Linked DNA regions of Homo sapiens: regions 2 and 3 are each linked to region 1. The links come from fine-mapping of genetic effects on gene expression. A gene starts in region 1. Each other region holds a variant in brackets. All regions are shown on one strand. Distances are from middle to middle.

The links. PIP is the estimated chance that this variant, and not a neighbour inherited with it, causes the effect.
Region 2: its variant is fine-mapped to the expression of AMN1 in whole blood (INTERVAL, PIP above 0.99).
Region 3: its variant is fine-mapped to the expression of AMN1 in whole blood (TOPMed, PIP 0.97).

What each region holds. Positions count from the first base shown.
Region 1 is chr12:31,727,553-31,730,315 of GRCh38, reverse strand. AMN1 (antagonist of mitotic exit network 1 homolog) reads left to right here and starts at 1,295. Exons shown (of 7, transcript NM_001113402.2): 1 at 1,295-1,345. The coding sequence starts at 1,308. AMN1-AS1 (AMN1 antisense RNA 1) reads right to left here and starts at 1,051. Exons shown (of 1, transcript NR_198987.1): 1 at 1-1,051. LOC105369722 (a long non-coding RNA gene) reads right to left here. Exons shown (of 3, transcript XR_931497.3): 3 at 1,426-1,659. RefSeq lists enhancers at 787-986, 382-1,014, 1,027-1,376 and a silencer at 1,427-1,506.
Region 2 is chr12:31,787,119-31,789,881 of GRCh38, reverse strand. No RefSeq gene overlaps it. Among named protein-coding and RNA genes, the nearest start is that of H3-5, 3.8 kb to the left of the region's middle. The variant G/A (reference allele first, on the strand shown) is at 1,205.
Region 3 is chr12:31,670,869-31,673,631 of GRCh38, reverse strand. ETFBKMT (electron transfer flavoprotein subunit beta lysine methyltransferase) reads right to left here. Exons shown (of 4, transcript NM_001135863.2): 4 at 518-2,763. AMN1 (antagonist of mitotic exit network 1 homolog) reads left to right here. Exons shown (of 7, transcript NM_001113402.2): 7 at 1,255-2,490. The coding sequence ends at 1,328. Among named protein-coding and RNA genes, the nearest start is that of ETFBKMT, 13 kb to the right of the region's middle. The variant C/G (reference allele first, on the strand shown) is at 1,446.

The DNA of each region.
Region 1 (2,763 bases):
GAGACAGTTCTTATCTCAGACATACAAGCATGAGTTTCCTTCCTTTCTGGTCTCTAGGCTCCAATTTGTCTGGGTCTGACAATAGTTACTTCTCCTGGAATCTGCAACTTTCAGAGCACTTTATGGAAAAAGTCGGCCAACCCCTGCCCTACACTCACTCTTGATCACTCTCCAGTGTAGCCATCCCAAACTATTTGCAGACCACCCTTTTCTCTCTGATCTGTATCCCACCCCCATGGGTGCTTCCATAGAACTAACCCCATCTAAGCATTTAACAGTTATTCTAATTGCCCTTTTACTTGTCTGACCCAAGTGTTCGCCACTCAATCCTCAGCACCCAGCACGATCCCTAGCCCTCGTTCAGCGCTTAATAAATCCATGTTGATTCAATGTGTAGCATCCTGAACAGGCAACAGCAGTGGGTTCCAACTTTCAAGGAGCTTAAAAAAGGAACTCAGCATACAAACAACAGACTAATCTACAAGGAAGAATGAGGGGGGTGGAGGGAGCACTAAAAAGCAGCAAGTACTCTGCAGCAGAACCAAAGATAAAATTCCACCTAAAGGTGCCCTTTCTTCAGGATCCTTCCTAATTTGAATACAGGTTCCCTTCTCCTCCATGACGAAATTCTTAGTGAGGTTACTTGTTGGTACGCAGTGTCCTCATCTGTAAAATAAGGCTAAATAATTACGATTTCACCGGATTATAATGAATATGGTTAAGTATTGAACTAAGGCCTAGAAAGCACGTAGCTCAGTGCACGCTTCCTAGAAAGTGCTCAGTAAACTCGGATCCTCTAACACGCTCCGTTTGATGTTAATGGAGTCCGTATCCGAGCGGGTCTCCAGTGTGCATCGCCAAGGGTATGGCCCAGCATCCAACGCATCCTTTTAGTAAGAGTAGCGACTTCTCAGCGCTCCCTTCGCCCCAGGAGAGTTCTCGGCTCGCGGCGTCGCGGCGGGGCTGCGCGCTGGGCTGAACTCCCAAGAAACCTCCTGCAGCTGAACCGGAGCAGACGCCCGCCAGGTGAAAGAACTACAACTCCCGTCACGTTGCATCCGAGTTTAGGGCCTCTTTATAGTTTATCACACCCAGCCTCTTCCGCGCAGCCCTCAGTGGCTCCGCCCCAAAGGGGGCTCTCTTCTTTCCTTGTGGAGTCCGAAGCGTGGCCACGCCCCGGTCACCGGAAAAATCCGTGTGACGTCACAAAAACCTACGCGTCGCGCGGTGGGCGGGAGTTGGCGGACGGTCCCTGGCTGGGTTCTGGAGGCCCTGGGACCGCGGAAGAGGCTTCAGACGCTGCAGCGATGCCTCGCCCACGGCGGGTCAGTCAGCTCCTGGATCTGTGAGTCTACCCTGTCCCGCCTCCCTTCGCGCCGCCCCAGCACCTCCTCCAAACGGCCAGGCCCTGCGCTGCTCTTCCTCCCCGCCCCTTTCCCACCCCCCCCGCCGACCTCTGAAGAGGCCCCGCGTGTGTTTCTGTCCCTGGGTTCCTGATCTGTCGTTTCCTGGCTGAGGACAGTTGTGCAAAGTGGGTCTCTTGGCGGGCTTGCCCCTCCAACACTCCGCTGCGCGATGAGCGTCCATTCCTCCGTCAGCCTTGACAGCTCGGCGCCCCGGCTGTTACTGGCAGTGGCCTCTCTCTTAGCAGCTAAAAGCCTTGGTAGAAAAAAACACAACGCTAGATGAGGTTCTCAAAAGCTTCTAGCAGAATTCCACCCCTGTAACTGGAATAAACATTGACAGACCCTGGGATAAAGGTAACAAAGTGGTTAAGACCACGGATCCCTGGCTGAGATTGCTGGGTTCAGCCCCCGGCTCTGCCATTCACCAGCCACGTGACCATGGACCGGTAACGTAACCTCTCCCTGTGCCTAGGTTCTTTATCTATAAAATTTTTGTGATAATAGCACCCATCACATGGAGTTGTCCTGAGGGATAAATTTAAAACATGTAAAACCCTTATAAGGATGCCCAGCAAATAATAAACACCACTAAGTGTTATTGTTATTATTATTTCCTACCAGAAATTGTACGGAAATGGAAGTTACAAGGGCAATTGCGTCTCTCCAGGAGCTTTCAGTCCGTTAATATTGCCATGTAAAAAATAGACATCTTAAGGATAAGGAGAACAATCTCCTTAATCTACTGAAGGCTTTCTGAAACAATGGCATCTGATATTTTACATTAAACTTGGGAGGCCGAGGTGGGAGAACTGCTTGAGCTCAGGAGTTCGAGACCAGCCTGGGCAACGTGGCGAAACCCCGCCTCTACTAAAGATACAAAAATTATCTGGGCACGGTGGTTCACGCCTGTAATCCCAGCACTTTGGGAGGCCGAGGCACTTGAGATCAGGAGAGTTGGAGACCAGCCTAGCCAGCACGGCAAAACCGCGGCATGTACTAAAAATACAAAAATTAGCCAGGAGTAGTAGTGGCGCCGGTAGTCCCAGCTACTCTGGAGGCTGAGGCAGGAGAATCGCCTCAACCCAGGAGGCAGAGGTTGCAGTGAGCTGAGATCGCGCCACTGCACGCCTAGGCTGCTAGGCGACAGAGCGAGACTGTCTCAAAAAAATAAAATAAATAACTATAATATATGTAGAATAATATCACAAGCGGGAGAGTAACAAACTTTTGAAATTTCTAATAAGGAAAAGAATAGGAGAAAGCTTTGTCAAGGGGGTTATTTTTGAACATTGGTAGTATCTGACGGTTGCAAATGGGAGGAAATGTATCGTAGAGAGTGAAATAAAAAGAGTAAAGG
Region 2 (2,763 bases), 60 kb before region 1:
ATGGTACAGGATGGGCTTGATTAGTCGATATAGTGGGCATGATATTCGTTTTACAGACTAGAGTTCACACTAAATGGCCATAGGCTCCCATAGGGCCACCAGGTAGAGTTGTGCAGATTGTATAGGCTGTGCACTGCACAACTTTTTATGTTATGTGCACAGTGCCCTCTGGAGTTATAAAATGCAAAGTCGGCTGGACGTGGTGGCTCTCGCCTGCAATCCCAGCACTTTGGGAGGCCGAGGCAGGCAGATCACAAGGTCAGGAGTTCGAGACCAGCCTGGCCAACATGGTGAAACCCCATCTCTACTAAAATACAAAAATTAGCTGGGCGTGGTGGCATGCGCCTGTCATCCCAGCTACTCAGGAGGCTGAGGCAGGAGAATCGTTTGAACCCAGGAGGTGGAGGTTGCAGTGAGCCGAGATCGTGCCATTGCACTCCAGCCTGGGAGACAGAGCAAGACTCTGTCTCAGAAAAAAAAAAAAAAAAAAAAGCAAAGTCTACTCAGCCATACCTGGAAGCCTAGACGCCAGGCAGGTAACACAAATCAGTGAAACCTGGGGCCCTTTGAAAGGATTCCAGCAAATTTAAAAATAATGGTCAGAGCACTGTGGAGTTGTAGAAAAACAAATTTGCAGACTATGTTCAGCCTTGGAGCTCAAGTTTGGGACCTCTGCCATATAAGGTAGAGGCAGTCAATATTTTTGTCAAGGTAATGATGCAAAGAGATATGTAAAATAGATTACCATAGAGAAAAGAGGCTACAAAGAAATAAAAAAGTCAGAAAAGTACTTCAATAATCTGGGCTGAGGAAACAGGGGCCTGGCCGGGCCAGAACTATGTGGATAGACATAGAAAGAAAAGAATTAGTAGAATTTAGTGATCAGATTCAGGTTTGATTCTGAACCAAATCAATTCAGACTTGATTTCTCATAAGACAAAAAAAAAAAAAAAAGAAAGGGAGACCAGAGTAATGCAAGGTTTTGAACTTGGGTCCTTAGGAAAATACCTGGAAGAAAAATATTTACCTTGGAAATAATTTCAGATTAAAAAATAATCTTTTGACCGGGTGTGGTGGCTCACGCCTGTAATCCCGGCACTTTGGGAGGCCGAGGCAGGCAGATCATGAGGTCAGGAGATGGAGACCATCCTGGCTAACATGGTGAAACCCCGTCTCTACCAAAAACACAAAAAATCAGCTGGGC[G/A]TGGTGGCGGATGCCTGTAGTCCCAGCTACTCGGGAGGCCAAGGCAGTAGAATGGTGTGAACTCATGAGGCGGAGCTTGTAGTGAGCCAAGATCGCACCACTGCACTCCAGCCTGGTCAACAGAGTGAGACTCAGTCTCAAAAAAAAAAAAAAAAAAAAAAAACTTTTAGGATAGGATAGTAAAAATCATGTTTTGAAAGCTTATGTAATGCTGGCCGGGCACGGTGGCTCACGCATGTTGGGAGGCTGAGGCAGGCGGATCACTTGAGGTCAGGAGTTCGAGACCAACCTGGCCAACATGGCGAAACCTTATCTCTACTAAAAATACAAAAATTAGCCAGGCTTGGTAGTGGGCGCCTGTAATCCTAGCTACTGGGGAGGCTGAGGCAGGAGAATCACTTGAACCTGGGAGGCAGAGGCTGCAGTGAGCAGAGATCGAGCCACTACACTCCAGCCTGGGCAATAAAGTGAGACACCATCTTAAAAAAAAAGAAAAAAGCGCTGGGAGCAGTGGCTCACCTCTGTAATCCCAGCACTTTGGGAGGCCGAGGTGGGCGGATCATGAGGTCAGGAGATCGGGACCATCCTGGCTAACACAGTGAAATCCCATCTCTACTAAAAATACAAAAAATTAGCCGGATGTGGTGGCGGGCACCTGTAGTCCCAGCTACTCGGGAGGCTGAGGCGGGAGAATGGCGTGAACCCAGGCGGCGGAGCTTGCAGTGAGCCGAGATTGTGCCACTGCACTCCAGACTGGGTGACAGAGTGAGACTCTGTCTCAAAAAAAAAAAAAGAAAAGAAAAAAGCTTATGTAATGCTATGGCACTGCTCATAATAAAAAAAATGTGAGAAAAAAGCAGACAAGAGGAAGACAAAAATTGGAAAAAAAACTATGCAAAAACATTAACAAAATGTTATCCTCAGCAATGTGATTGTAAGTTATAAAAATTTTCTTCCTTGTACTATGTTTCCAAACTTTCTACAATGAATGTTATATTTAAAAATAGAAAAAAATACTTTTAAAGATCCTAGAGGCTTCCCTTTTACAGAAACCATAAATTCAACCTTCATTATTTTGTTTTTGTGGTAACCATTTGTGACAGTAAGTGCTAACAGGCTTGGCTTTTTGGTTTTGGAAAAATTGGTCCTTGTGTACTAAATAGAAAGTCCTTGTAATCTCGAGGAGATAAAGATTTAATGTTGCCTAGTGATACAGATTTGTTTTAGGCATTATTTTCTTATTCAAAAACTAACTTCAATTGTTTTAATGATTTTTAGAAAAGATGGTTTTCCTTTTTTTTTTTTTTTGAGATGGAGTCTCGCTCTGTCGCCCAGGCTGGAGTGCAGTGGCGTGATCTTGGCTCACTGCAACCTCCACCCCCCGGGTTCAAGCAATTCTGTGCCTCAGCCTCCCAAGTAGCTGGGATTACAGGCACCTGCCACCATGCCCAGCTAATTTTTGTATTTTTAGTAGAGATGGGGTTTCACCATCTCTGCCAGGCTGGTCTTGAACTTCTGATCTCGTGATCTACCCTCCTCGGCTTCCCAAGACGCTGGGA
Region 3 (2,763 bases), 57 kb after region 1:
CTGGCCTCACAGAAAGAGTTGGAAAGTGTTTCCCCCTTCTTCTATAGCCACCCAGCTTTGTCATGGTTGCCATTTAAATGGTATGTCTTTGTCCATTCTTTTACTTTCAACATAATTTGAATCTATCTTTGATTGAGATTTCCTCTACAATAACCAATAATATTTTTATGACCATGAATAAAACTGCATTTATCTTACTAGCTGCTTTTTTAAAAAATTGTAAACCTTTGTTTTCCCAATGATAATAACTTTTCATTTCTATACACTCTCTGGTTCTCTTGCTGGCAATAAACCTTGGTATTTTTGCTTAATTTTGTTAAACTTAAAATAAAATTTTGTCACTGTATATGTTGGGCCCATCTTTTTTTTTTTTTCTACTGGTCTGTGAAATCTGTCTAGGAACCACCAAATTACAGGATTTCCAAGACTAGGTTAGAGATATGTTGTACATAAAACATAGGTTGTATCTATGGAAACAAGTTTATTAAACTTATGAGTAATATTTAAACTAACAAAATTTTATCAGTATTTTTGCTTTAATTCAGATTTTTAAAAGACATCCTAAAACTAGGATGGAAACCATATCAAAATCACGACTGTACATTGTGAAAAACTGAAAACATCTAAATGTCCAATAATATAGATTGGTTAAATTACAGTGTATTTATATAATGGTTATCTATTTAAAATCATGCTTTATAGTAGTATTATACAGACATGGAAAAATGTTCAGCTACAGGTCAACTTGTCACGTTCGGTGACTACTACCTCCTTTAACCCTTTGGGTGTGTTGCAGCTTCCCAAGGTGGTTTACCGTACCTATTGGCTTTCTTTAATCCTACTTTTTTGGTAAATATTCCCTTCATTAAATGCTGTTCAGTCACCCCACTTTAGTGAATCATCTATTTCCGGCTAAGATCCTGAAAAAAGTTATTAACCATTAACACAGGTTAATGGTGAAATTAGACCATTACTCTGGTTGGTGGAATTATGATGAAATTACAGAGAAAACAACAAATGCCTGTTTTTTTTTTTTAAACAAGTAATACCATGATAGGTGCACTACACCTAATAATAGTGAGGGCTACCATTAATTAATTATTAGTGAGTTAGTTGTATATTGTGCTTTATAGATCACCTCCTTTAATCCTTTAAATAACTGTATAATAATTAACATCACCTCCAGTTAGACATGAGGAAACATTAAACATTTTTTATTGTCAATTAATATATTGTCATTGTTTTCTTTTATAGATCATTCCCGAGAAGTGTTGGAGCAATTAGTAGGCCCAAACAAACTAAAGCAAGTGACATGGACTGTTTATTGATGCTTTTTTGAAGATGATCAATGCTAGGAAAGCTTATCAAAACTACTTTCCCAGGAAACCATCTATAGAGATTTGCATTCTACTTAATGTTAACACTATTTTTAATTATTTTATTGT[C/G]TTAAGTTATAACTCTCAGAGAATTAGCTAAGTCTTGGTATATACATGGTTTGTGCTTTACTCTTAAACATCTTTAAAGTGCTATTATTCTATATCTGTTGGATGAGTCATTATTTTTGAAATGATAATCCTAGCATGAACTCTGATCTATGGTGTTGGATTCTGTTTCTTAAATAACTTTAAAATTAACTGTTTTCCCTTGAGATTTCCTTCTCCTATGTAGGTATTTGAGCTATTGTTCTAAGTTTACCTGTAAGTATAAACCTTGGGAGAATCTAAGTAAACATATTTCTAAAAGCATAGTTACCTTCCTATTTTCTGGCTCTTACCTTCTTGGAGTATTTAAATGCCCATTTGCCAAAAGCAGACCTGAACATCAAGCCTGTTAATTCTTCAAAGAATTTAGGTATTTGTTTCACCGAAATGAAGTGACTTATTAGCCATTCAGCGTATTAGTATTACAGAGGCTCTTGCCCAGCCACATCCATTCATTGATTTTTATGGCTACTCTTCCCAGTTACATTTTATGCATCTGTAAGCTTTCCTTCCTTAGCAAAATTGCATTCAAAAATGTGTAAAAATGAGTAAATACAGAATATCACTACAGAGACTTGTATCCTCAGGTTTATTGATTTCACATTGTGAAATAAACAGCAAAGGTCTTAGTTTTCAAGTGAAAACTTTTTGGTAATCACAAAATTACCTGACACATACCACGCTTAAACCAACCCCCAAATTTAGCATATTCATTTTGCCATGAGCCAGTCTTGAGATTTTCTTAAAAGATTTCTTATTTTGCCTCTGATGTAGTGAAAAACGGGGTAAGTATGCTAACTTTCTTGTATATGTTGGGGGGTACTTATTCAACTCCATTTCTTGTCCTTACAAGATTTATAAATGTGGTATGTTTATAGTGTGGATATATATGTTGCCACTGCAAAGGTGGTGCATATGTATATATGTGCAAAATGGGTAAGGCCTGTTCTAACTATGAAATTTTTCTAAAGACAAATTCAATAAAATTTAATACTGAATATTTAACCAAGTCAATCACATTTTCCCCTTTTTGCAGAAACTAGTTTCGACATCTAAATTGTGAGCTTCTTTGGGTCTATGAAGGATTTATCTTCCTAAAACAGTTTGCAGTTTGATATTTCTCCTTTTTTATGTTGCTAGCTGTATTAACTATTTCTCACCACTCTGTTTAAAATATCTGTACCCCATCCAGTACCCAGTATTCCCTATTACCCTTACTTCTTTTTCTCCTTACTACCTATCACCATCTGATGCCTGTTTTCATTTGTTCATTATGTCTCCC